3 linked regions of the Homo sapiens genome follow. The protein of the gene in region 2 purifies or fractionates together with the protein of the main gene of each other region. This does not show direct contact. Each region holds a gene or a part of one and is shown on either strand. Other genes may lie near its edges.

Region 1 (3,653 bases), on a different chromosome or scaffold from region 2:
GGGCCTGGGTTTTCTAAATTGTCCTTTTGTTCTCAGTTTGGGGATCGATGTTGGGTTAATACGGTGACATTCTGATTTCAACTCCAAATACCAAGAATTGGTAATCCTGAATAATTTGTATCCAATCTCTTGAGCATAGTGGGTTCTTAAATAATAGTAGCTGAGTCAAGTTCCTTATCTAAGAGCATACATACACATGTATGGCATTTGAAAAAGGTAAAAGTCCCTCACAAATAAGACAGTGTTTTAACAACTGAGAAGAGTGGATCCAAAAATAAGATAAAGACTATTAGAATCAGATTAAATTAAGACAGTAGTTCTCAACCAGGAGTGCTATTCTGCATTCTTCAGAAATGGGAAAGGGGCGGCCGGGCACGGTGGCTCACGCCTATAATCCTAGCACTTTGGGAGGTCGAGGTGGGCAGATCATAAGGTCAAGAGATGGAGACCATCCTGGCCAATATGGTGAAACCCCGTCTCTACTAAAAACACAAAAATTAGCCAGGCATGGTGGCGTGCACCTGTAGTCTCAGCTACTCGGGAGGCTGAGGCAGGAGAATTGCTTCAACCCAGGAGGCGGAGGCTGCAGTGAGCCAAGATCGCGCCACTGCACTCCAGCCTGGCGACAGAGCCAAGACTCCGTCTCAAAAAAAAAAAAAGAAATAGGCAATGGGTTCGGGCGCAGTGGGTCACGCTTGTAATCCCAGCACTTTGGGAGGCCAAGACGGGTGGATCACTTGAGATCAGGAGTTCAAGACCAGCCTGGCCAACATGGTGAAACCCCGTCTCCACTAAAAATACAAAAATTAGCTAGGCCTGGTGGCATGTGCCTGTAATCCCAGCTACTCAGGAGGCCGAGGCAGGAGAACCCAGGAGGTGGAGGCTGCAGCAAGCCAGGATCACTCCACTGCACTCCAGCCTGGGCGACAGAGCGAGACTCTGTCTCAAAAAAAAAAAAAGAAAAAGAAAAAGAAAAAAAGAAATGGGCAAGGGTAGTTTTAATAGTACAATGAGTGGGGAACTCATTCTCTACTCATTTAGCCAGGAATGCTCAATACAGGACAATCCCACAAAAATAACTTTTCCATCTAAGATGCCAGATACTACTGTGAGTTTTTCTCCATACGCAGGAACTAAGTCCCAGAAAAGTGATGTGCTGAAAAGCCAGGTTTTTTCTTTCTTTCTTTCCTTTTTTTTTTTTTTTTAGACAGAGTCTTACTCTGTCACCCAGGCTGGAGTGCAGTGGTGGCACCATCTCGGCTCATTGCAACCTCTGCCTCCCCAGTTCAAGTGATTCTCCAGCCTCAGCCTCCCAAGTAGCTGGGACTACAAGTGCCCACTACCACGCCTGGCTAATTTTCATATTTTCAGTAGAGACGGGGTTTCACCACATTGGCCAGACTGGTCTCAAACTCCTGACTTCAAGTGATCCACCCGCCTCGGCCTCCCAAAGTGCTGGGATTATAGGCGTGAGCCACAGGGCCTGGCCCAGGTTTGTTTTTTTTTTCACTAGTTAGTAGAAATAACCAAGGATTCCTGATCCCTAGTATATTATTCTGATAGGTAACCTAGCTACACATTTTTAAAAAAATTTTCTTTCTTTTTTTCTTTCTTTTGAGACAGAGTCTTGCTCTGTCGCCAAGGCTGGAGTGCAGTGGTGCAATCTTGGCTTACTGCAAAGTCTGCCTCCCACACTCAACCGATTCTCATGCCTCAGCCTCCCAAGTAGCTGGGAATACAGGTGTCCGCCACTGCACCTGGCTAATTTTTGTATTTTTAGTAGAGACAGGGTTTTGCCATGTTGGCCAGGCTGGTCTTGAACTCCTGGTCTCAAGTGATCCACTTTCCTCGGCCTCCCAAAGTGCTGAGATTACAGGCATGCACCACTGCACTGGACCTTAGCTACACATTTTAAATGGCATATATAAGATTTAACTAAAGAAAGGTAAAGAAGATGCTGTCTAATGATCCTTTTCAGTTCTCAAAGCCTGCAATTAAATCAATCAAAATTCAAATCTGACAATGGGGGCCAGACATGGTGGCTCATGCCTGTAATCCCAGCACTTTGGGAGGCCGAGGCGGGTAGATCACTGGAGGTCAGGAATTCGAGACCAGCCTGGTCAACATGGTGAAGCCCTGTCTCTAGTAAAAATAAAAAACTTAGCTGAGCATGGTGGCACACGCCTGTGGTCCCAGCTACTCAGGAGGCTGAGGAACAAGAATCGCTTGAAACCAGGAGGCAGAGGCTGGAATGAGCCAAGATTGTGCCACTGCACTCCAGCCTGGGTGACAGAGACAGACCCTGTCTCAAAAAAAAAAAAAAAAAAAAATCTGACACTGGGGAATATGCAAAAAGAAATTACTCATCTGATAGTCCTGTGGTTTCTATGTATAAGGGGCTTAAGGAAGATGTCTGCCTGGGAGGACTACAACTGTGTTTGTACAAGAGTATTAGTGAGAACATCAACTGCCTACATCAGTGAAGCCAGAATGCTTAAGTTGCACTGAACATCCCCATGTTTTCACACCTATGTGGACACCAATATTTTTTCTTTCTGTATCTGTCTCCTTCCCAGTCTCACTCACTGCTTTATCCTTGTGCCTAGCATATGGATGGTAAACAAATAGTAAAACAAATTACTTGTTTCAGGGCAGTAAAATTTAGTTCATCTACAGTTTTTAAAACATACTTTGAGGGCCTGGCGTGGCTGCTCACGCCTGTAATACCAGCACTTTGGGAGGCCGAGGCGGGTGGATCACCTGAGGTCAGGAGTTGGAGACCAGCCTGGCCAACATAATGAAACCCCATCTCTATAAAAATACAAAAATCAGCTGGGTGTGGTGGCGGGCACCTATAATCCCAGCTACCTGGGAGGCTGAAACAGGAGAATCACTTGAACACGGGAAGCGGAGGCTGCAGTGAGCCAAGACCACGCCATTGCATTCCAGCCTGGGCAACAAGAGTGAAACTCTGTTTCAAAAAAATAAATGGGCTGGGTGCAGTGGCTCACACCTGTAATCCCAGCACTTTGGGAGGCTGAGGTGGGCGGATCACGAGGTCAAGAGATTAAGACCATCCTGGCCAACATGGTGAAACCCCATCTCTACTAAAAATACAAAAATTAGCCAGGCATGGTGGCACGCACCTGTAGTCCGAGCTACTCAGGAGGCTGAAGCCAGGAGAATCGCTTGAACCGGGGAGGCAGAGGCTGCAGTGAGCTGAGATCATGCCACTGCACTCCAGCCTGGTGGACAGAGCGAGACTCTGTCTCAAGAAAATAAAATAAAAAACACATTTTATATTTGAAACACGCTGGGCGCGGTGGCTCACGCCTGTAATCCCAGCACTTTGGGAGGCCGAGGCAGGCGGATCACAAGGTCAGGAGATCGAGACCATCCTTGCTAACACGGTGAAACCCTGTCTCTACTAAAAATATAAAAAATTAGCTGGACGTGGTGGTGGGTGCCTGTAGTCCCAGCTACTCGGGAGGCTGAGGCAGGAGAATGGCGTGAACCCTGGAGGCAGAGGTTGCAGTGAGCCGAGATTGTGCCACTGCACTCCAGCCTGGGCAACAGAACAAGACTCCATCTTAAAAAAAAGAAAAAGAAAAAGAAAAAGAAACTTACCAAAGAGCCTTTCCTAGCCTAAAGAG
Region 2 (3,653 bases):
AGCTTCAGAGACCTGTAAGATAATGCCCAAATAGCTAACATTACTATCATCACAGTCAAAGAATTAGAGGAAAAAGGGTGCAGTGCAAAAAAAAAAAATTGAAGAAAGAATGATTGAATATTCCACAAACTTGCCAAAACATAAACCTACAGATTAAAGAAGATCACTGAACTCCAAAGTAAGCCCAAAGAAATCCACACCCAGACAACATCATTTCCAAAAGCTAATGACACAGAAAAGGTGTAGAATGGAACCAGATAAAAATGGTACACTACATATAGGGAACAACAGCTTGAATAACTGTGTGTTTCTCATTAGAAACCTTAGAGACCAGAAGAAAAAAATTTAAAAACTGCTGGAAAATGTTGATGTTCATAATGTTGGGTTGAGGTCTACCATTTTAGGATGTGTTTTCTGTTTGTTCTCGCTGATCTTTATCCTCTGTTTTCTCTTTCCTGCTTTCTTTTGGAGTACAAAACCATAACAAAAAGCCCAGAATCCCATATGCAGTGAAAATATCCTTCAGGAAAGAAGATTAAATCGAGACATTCTCAGATGAAGGACACTTAGAATTCATCACCAGCAAACCTGCTCTAAAAGAATTGCTAAAGGAAATTCTTCAAATGAAACCAGAGGGAAACTTGAAACTTGAAACTTCAAGAATGTAGGAAGAGTAACAGAACTGGTAAAGACCTAAGTAAATACAATAGACTGTTCTTCCCTTGAGCTCTTTAAAATATGATTGATGATTAAATGCAAAAATTATAACCTTGTCTGATGGGGCATTAGATGTATGTAGATGTAATACATGAGATAAATGTAACAAAAATGGGAGAGAACAGAGGAACCTACATGACGGTAAGCTTTTTACATTCCATTAGATGTGGTAAAATAGCAATTTCAGGCCGGGCGTGGTGGCTCACACTTGTAATCCCTGCATTTTGGGAGGCCAAGGTGGGTGGATCATCTGAGGTCAGGAGTTCCAGACCAGACTGGCCAACATGGTGAAACCCGGTCTCTACCCAAAATACAAAAATTGGCTGGGCCTGGTGGTGGGTGCCTGTAATTTCAGCTACTTGGGAGGCTGAGGTAGGAGAATCGCTTGAACCCAGGAGGCAGAGTTTGCAATGAGCCCAGCTCATGCCATTGCACTCCAGCCTGGGTGACAGAGCAAGACTCTGTCTCAAAAAAAAAAAAAAAAAAAAGGAACTCTAAGTAGATTGTTAAGTATATTGTAATTCTTAGAGTAACCATTAAAAAAAATACAGAGATACAGTAAGAAAGACAATAAATAAGTTAAAATGGAACACTAAAAAATGTTCAAATACTCAAAAAAAAAGCAGGAAAGGGAAAACAGAGGATAAAGATCAGCGAGAACAAACAGAAAACACATCCTAAAATGGTAGACTTCAACCCAACATTATGAACATCAACATTATCAATAACAACAGTAAATTAAATGGCTTAAACATACCAAATAAAACACAGAGTATGTCAGAATGGGTTTTTAAAAACCCACCTGATGGGATCATTCATACCCCAAACCTCAGCATCATGTACTATACCCGTGTAACAAACCTGCATGTGTGTCCTGAATCTAAAATTAAAGTTGAAATTAAAAAAAAAAACCACCCACCAACTAACTACGTGCTATTTACAAGAAACCCACTGTAAATAGATGTTATAGGTAGGTAATAAGTAAAAGGGTGGAAAAAGAAACACTAATCAAAAGAAAGTCATAGTAGCTATATGATTTGCAGATAAAGAACTGAAAGGAGACATAGACAAATATGCATTATAATTGGAGACTTCAACACTCCTCAGCATTCCACATAAAACAGCCTGAAAATCAGCAAGAATATAGAACTGAATACTAACATTAACCAAACTTTATCTAATTGATTTATATCTAAAATACTCAACCCAACAATAGCAGAATACACATTCCTTTCAAGTATACATGAAACAAGATCGACCATACCCTGAGTCATGAAACAAACCTTAACAAACTATAAAAGCAGCAAAATACAAACTATGTTCTCTGACTGTAATGCAATCAAACTGGAAATCAAATAACAGAAAGAGAACCAGAAAATCTCCCAACACTTGGAAATGCACTTCCACATATTCAATGCCAGAGAGGAAGTCTCAAGGAAAATAAGACTGAAAATATTTTGAACTCAACAAAATGAAAATAAAACCATCAATATGTAGGATGCAGGTAAAGCAGAGTTTAGGAGAAAATTTATAGCTTAAATGTTTATATTAGAAAAGGAGAAAGGTCTCAAATCAATATTCTAAGCTGAAGAAATCAGGAAAAGGTATCAGGCCCAGTGACTCACACCTGTAATCCCAGCACTTTGAGAGGCGGAGTCAGGAGGACTGCTGAGACCAGGAATTTGAGACCAGCCTGGGTAACATAGAGAGACCTGCCTCTGTTAAAAATTTAAAAATTAGCTGGCTAGGTGTGGTGGGGTACCTATAGTCTCAACTACTCAGGAGGCTGAGGTGGGAAGATTGCTTGATTCCAGGAGTTTGAGGCTGCCCTGAGCTATGATCATGACACTGTACTCCAGCCTGGGAGACAGAGCAAAACCCTGTCTCAGGAAAAAAAAAAAAAAAAAAAGAATGAAAAGAAATAAAAAAAAAAAAAAGCTAACCAAATATAAAGCAAGCACACAGAAGGAAGGAAATGAAAATAACAGAAACCAGTGAGATGGAAAATGGTAAAATAAGGGGGGTGGGTGGGGAAATCAATGAAACCAAAAGCTGGTTCTTTGAAATAATTAATAAAATTGATAACCTCAAGCAAGACTGACAAAGAAAAGAGAGAACATACACATGACCAATATCAGGAATGAAATATCACTACAGACACAGCAGATATATGAAATGATATTAAGGAAATATGCTGAACAATCCTATGCACCTAGATTCAACAACTTAGATGAATGTAACAATTCTTCAAAAAAAAAAAATGACCAAAACTCACCCAAGGTGAAGTATATAACCTGAAATTCCTTTAAATATTAAAAAGAAATTGAATTTGTTGTTAAACACTTTGAAAGACATGCCCAAGCACAGATTATTTCATTGAAAAATTCGATTAAACATTTAAAAACGATATAACACCAATTCTATATAATCTCTCCCAGAAAGAGAAGATGAGGGGACATTACTACATGGGGCAAGCTTTATCCTGATACTAAAACCAGATAGTGTAAGAAAACTACAGGCCAATATTCCTCATGAACATAGACACAAACATTCTCAGTAAAACATTAGAGGATCAAATTCAGCAATACATAAAAAGAGTAATATAACACAACCAAGTGGAGCTTATGCCAGGAATGCAAGGCTAGTTCAATGCAGTCAGCCTTCTGTATTTGCAGGTTTCCCATCCTCAGATTCAACCAAGTGTGGATAAAAAAAATTTGAAAAAATAAAAATAAAAAATACCAAACAACAATAAAAGATAATACAAATAAAAATACAGTCTAACAACTATTCACCTTACTTTTACATTGTATTAGGTATTATAAGGAATCTAGAGATGATTTAAAATGTATGGAAGGATGTACATAGGTTATATGCAAATAATACGCCATTTTATATAAGTGACTGGAGCATTTGCAGATTTTGGTATCCAAAGT
Region 3 (3,166 bases), on a different chromosome or scaffold from region 2:
CTGGAGAAGGCCCAAGACTGGAACCCACTCCAAGTGGTGGGATTAAAGATTAAACGCTAAAGAGTACAAATGACCAAAGCAGGTACCTGAGGTACTCTGGATTTGGGATAGAAGAGAGGGGAGAAGGGAAGACGATGAAATAACAGGAAGAGAAAGAAGGACCTGAAGCCTCTGAATCCATAAAAAGGAAGGAAATCAAACTATAATTGACATCTAAGTGCCACGGCACTTATAGTTTGCAAAGCATTTCTACCTACGTGCTTAATCCTAAAAAGAACCCACCAAGGTGGGGATTACTCCAACTTTATAGATGAGGAGACAAAGCCTAGAGAAGTCAGACTTCACAAGACCGCAAATGCAGTAATGGGGCAGTGTAGGGAGGTGCTCAAATGTAGGCCCAAGAGAGAACACAGCAAAAAAGGAGTGCCCAGAGGAGGGGTTTAGGGAGAACACAGCAAGAAGAGACGTGCCCTGGGGTTTCACTGCAATGAGGAGATAAATGCATCAATTCACAAGGCAGAATTCTGAGGAATGCACACACAAATCTAAAGCATATTTATACATCACTTTAATTCTAATTGAGGATGCACGTCACAGTCATGTCTGATTGAAACTCTTAGATTACAGTCTTCAATCCCAACAAAAATCCCATTTCATCCCTCTATCACTCACAGCCAAATGAGGAAGTATATACTGCCCACTTTGCCTCTCCTTCACCAGGTGGGTCAGTATGAGCCTTTTGGCCCACACACTGCTGAGAAGGAAGCTCAAAAGATTAACCCCTTAAAAACAAAACGGGAGCGCGGCCTGATGACAAACTGAAATTCAATCCATTTATTTACACGTACATTGTACATAAGTTTACAAATTCTCACTTCTGCCACTCAGCTAGAACTTTTCGGGGAAAGCCTCCATCTCTTCCTTGATCCTGTTTTCTACAAGTAATGCGAAGTTACTGTCTGTGTTCTGAAGGTTATAGCTGACAAACACCTGTTTGTTGGTCTTCCTGGCTAAAAAGAGAAAACACATTGATACAGCCACTCCTGAAATACTGCAGGCCCCGTGTTCCTCACAGCCACGTGCAGCTGGGAAATGCTCAGAAAGAGGATGGGGTTGTAGGGAGAAAAGAAAGCTCTAATCTCCATGCCTCTCTTCAGACAGGTGCTGCAAATGCAGACGAGTCACTCAGGCCTCTCCCAGTCTCTCCACCAGACCCAGGGTTCTGAAGGGCAGGCCCCACCTCAGCAGCCTCCCTGGAACTTGTTCGAGAGGCAGCTGCTGGGCCCCACCCAGCCCTCCTGACCCAGAAAGCCAGGATTTGGGGCCAGCTGTCTGCTGGAACAGATCCTGCAGGTGCCCCGCACTGCTTAAGAACCTCTGCCCTACACAGAGGGGTTTCTGGTGTTTTGATTTAAAAAAAAAAAAAAAAATTTAAACACAAAAAATGGCCGGGAGCGGTGGCTCACGCCCATAATCCCAGCACTTTGGGAGGCCGAGACGGGTGGATCATAAGGTCAGGAGATCGAGACCATCCTGGCTAACACGTTGAAACCCCGTCTCTACTAAAAATACAAAAAATTAGCCGGGCATGGTGGCGGGCGCCTGTAGTCCCAGCTACTCGGGAGGCTGAGGCAGGAGAATGGCGTGAACCCGGGAGGCGGAGCTTGCAGTGAGCCAAGATCGCGCCACTGCACTCCAGCCTGGGCAATAGAGCAAGACTCCGTCTCAAAAAAAAATAAGTATTTAAAATAAAATATTAAAGTTCTCCTTCAGCACCACCCCACCCCAACCAGTTCCACTTCCCTCCCTCCTACGTTTCCATGCATTTGCATATATGTGTATACACACAAATATATTTGTGTGTGTGTGCACAGATAGGCATATGGACACACACGTAATTTTCTACTGAATGTAAGTTTTAGTCCCCTTCTACAGAATCAATAGAAAATGGCTGAGGTGCACATTGGGCCAACTGCAAAAATCAAGCAGAGTCATACACCTGGAATCTGAAAGCCAATATCCTGAAAATACGTGGGCAAAAAGGCTAAAGCAGTTGGATGTTGCCTGCCCCACTGCGCGGCCTCCTCCTTTAGCCTCACCCATACGCAGGGCCAGTGCAGAACTACTCACCCCTGGAGAGGCACTGACCCACCCCCACCTCAACATATGGCAAGCATGTACTTAGCCTCATCACCAAAAGGCAAAAGGGTGGTGCGGTGAGGCTGAGGGCACCAGGCCACCTGCACCATTACTAAAGGCCGATTTAGAACACACGTCATGGGATCTCATCTGGGCAGCAGTTCTGTCCTTTCAGTTGCTGCCATCTGAGCTATGGTCCCACCAAGAACCCTGAGAGGCAGTGTGGCTCAGGGGCGCAGGTGCAGGCGCAGGCCCAGGCCCCACCGTGGCCTGGAAACCTCTCCCAGCTTTGTTTGGAAATTGAGGAGAGGGAGAGCCCAGGACCCCAAAAGCCTGTTTTTCCGCTGTACAAGGCTGCGTGATTTTTAGGGCTGGAAAGGTCTTGGGTATTAACTCACTGACTGTCCTTACAAAGCAGCCAACACACCTATGAAAAAGCAAGGCGGCGGCAAGCACAGCCTCTGCCTGAGGACAGCTGCTGAATTGTATGACATGTGTTTACGTCTCGGTAAAGCTGTTTTTTTATTAAAAAAAAAAAAAAAGGAATGTGTCCGGACAAAGGCAGCTGTTCGGTTATTCCAAGAGCTGGTGTTTAAAGAACAGCTTACAGTACTTAGCACAGAGCCTCCCACCAGTGTGCTGGGTGCAGTGTGCCCCCGAGGCGGAGAGTTGTGCCCAGTTATCTGCTCAGCCCTGCGGGGAGTGAGGAAGCCTCTTAGGCTTCCCCCACCATTAGGGACCAACCTCATCCTTTCCTAGCTGTGTTAGGCAGGCTGGGACCACTCATGTAGAGGGTGATCTAAAGGCAGGCAGTGTGGTAGGAAGCTGGGGCTCACCAAGGCTGCCTAGGAGGAGCCTGTAAGTCACACCCTGCCCTATATCCCAGGGGCAGGAACATCCCCCTTTACCCTAAGGGGGCCCCCCTGGTATTCCAACTGTTCTAACTGCAGAGACAGGATTTCTGAGGAACAACGCTGTGTCTGGAGGCACTGAGCCCCTCAGACCCAAGCTGTGCCCCTCCAGGGCC

What was found.
Region 1: the proteins of CCDC69 (region 2) and CLTCL1 purify together in Homo sapiens (affinity purification with mass spectrometry; 2 studies listed by BioGRID and IntAct, with this or other methods). This does not show direct contact.
Region 3: the proteins of CCDC69 (region 2) and PSMG4 purify together in Homo sapiens (affinity purification with mass spectrometry; 2 studies listed by BioGRID and IntAct, with this or other methods). This does not show direct contact.

Annotation. Positions count from the first base shown.
Region 1 is NC_000022.11:19,281,683-19,285,335, forward strand, and holds part of CLTCL1 (clathrin heavy chain 2), read right to left. Parts: intron 1-3,653. UniProt on the Homo sapiens protein: Clathrin is the major protein of the polyhedral coat of coated pits and vesicles. Two different adapter protein complexes link the clathrin lattice either to the plasma membrane or to the trans-Golgi network.
Region 2 is NC_000005.10:151,189,481-151,193,133, forward strand, and holds part of CCDC69 (coiled-coil domain-containing protein 69), read right to left. Parts: intron 1-3,653. UniProt on the Homo sapiens protein: May act as a scaffold to regulate the recruitment and assembly of spindle midzone components. Required for the localization of AURKB and PLK1 to the spindle midzone.
Region 3 is NC_000006.12:3,265,435-3,268,600, reverse strand, and holds the end of PSMG4 (proteasome assembly chaperone 4), read right to left. Parts: exon of another isoform or gene 1,011-3,166; coding exon 889-1,010; 3' UTR 552-888; downstream 1-551. UniProt on the Homo sapiens protein: Chaperone protein which promotes assembly of the 20S proteasome.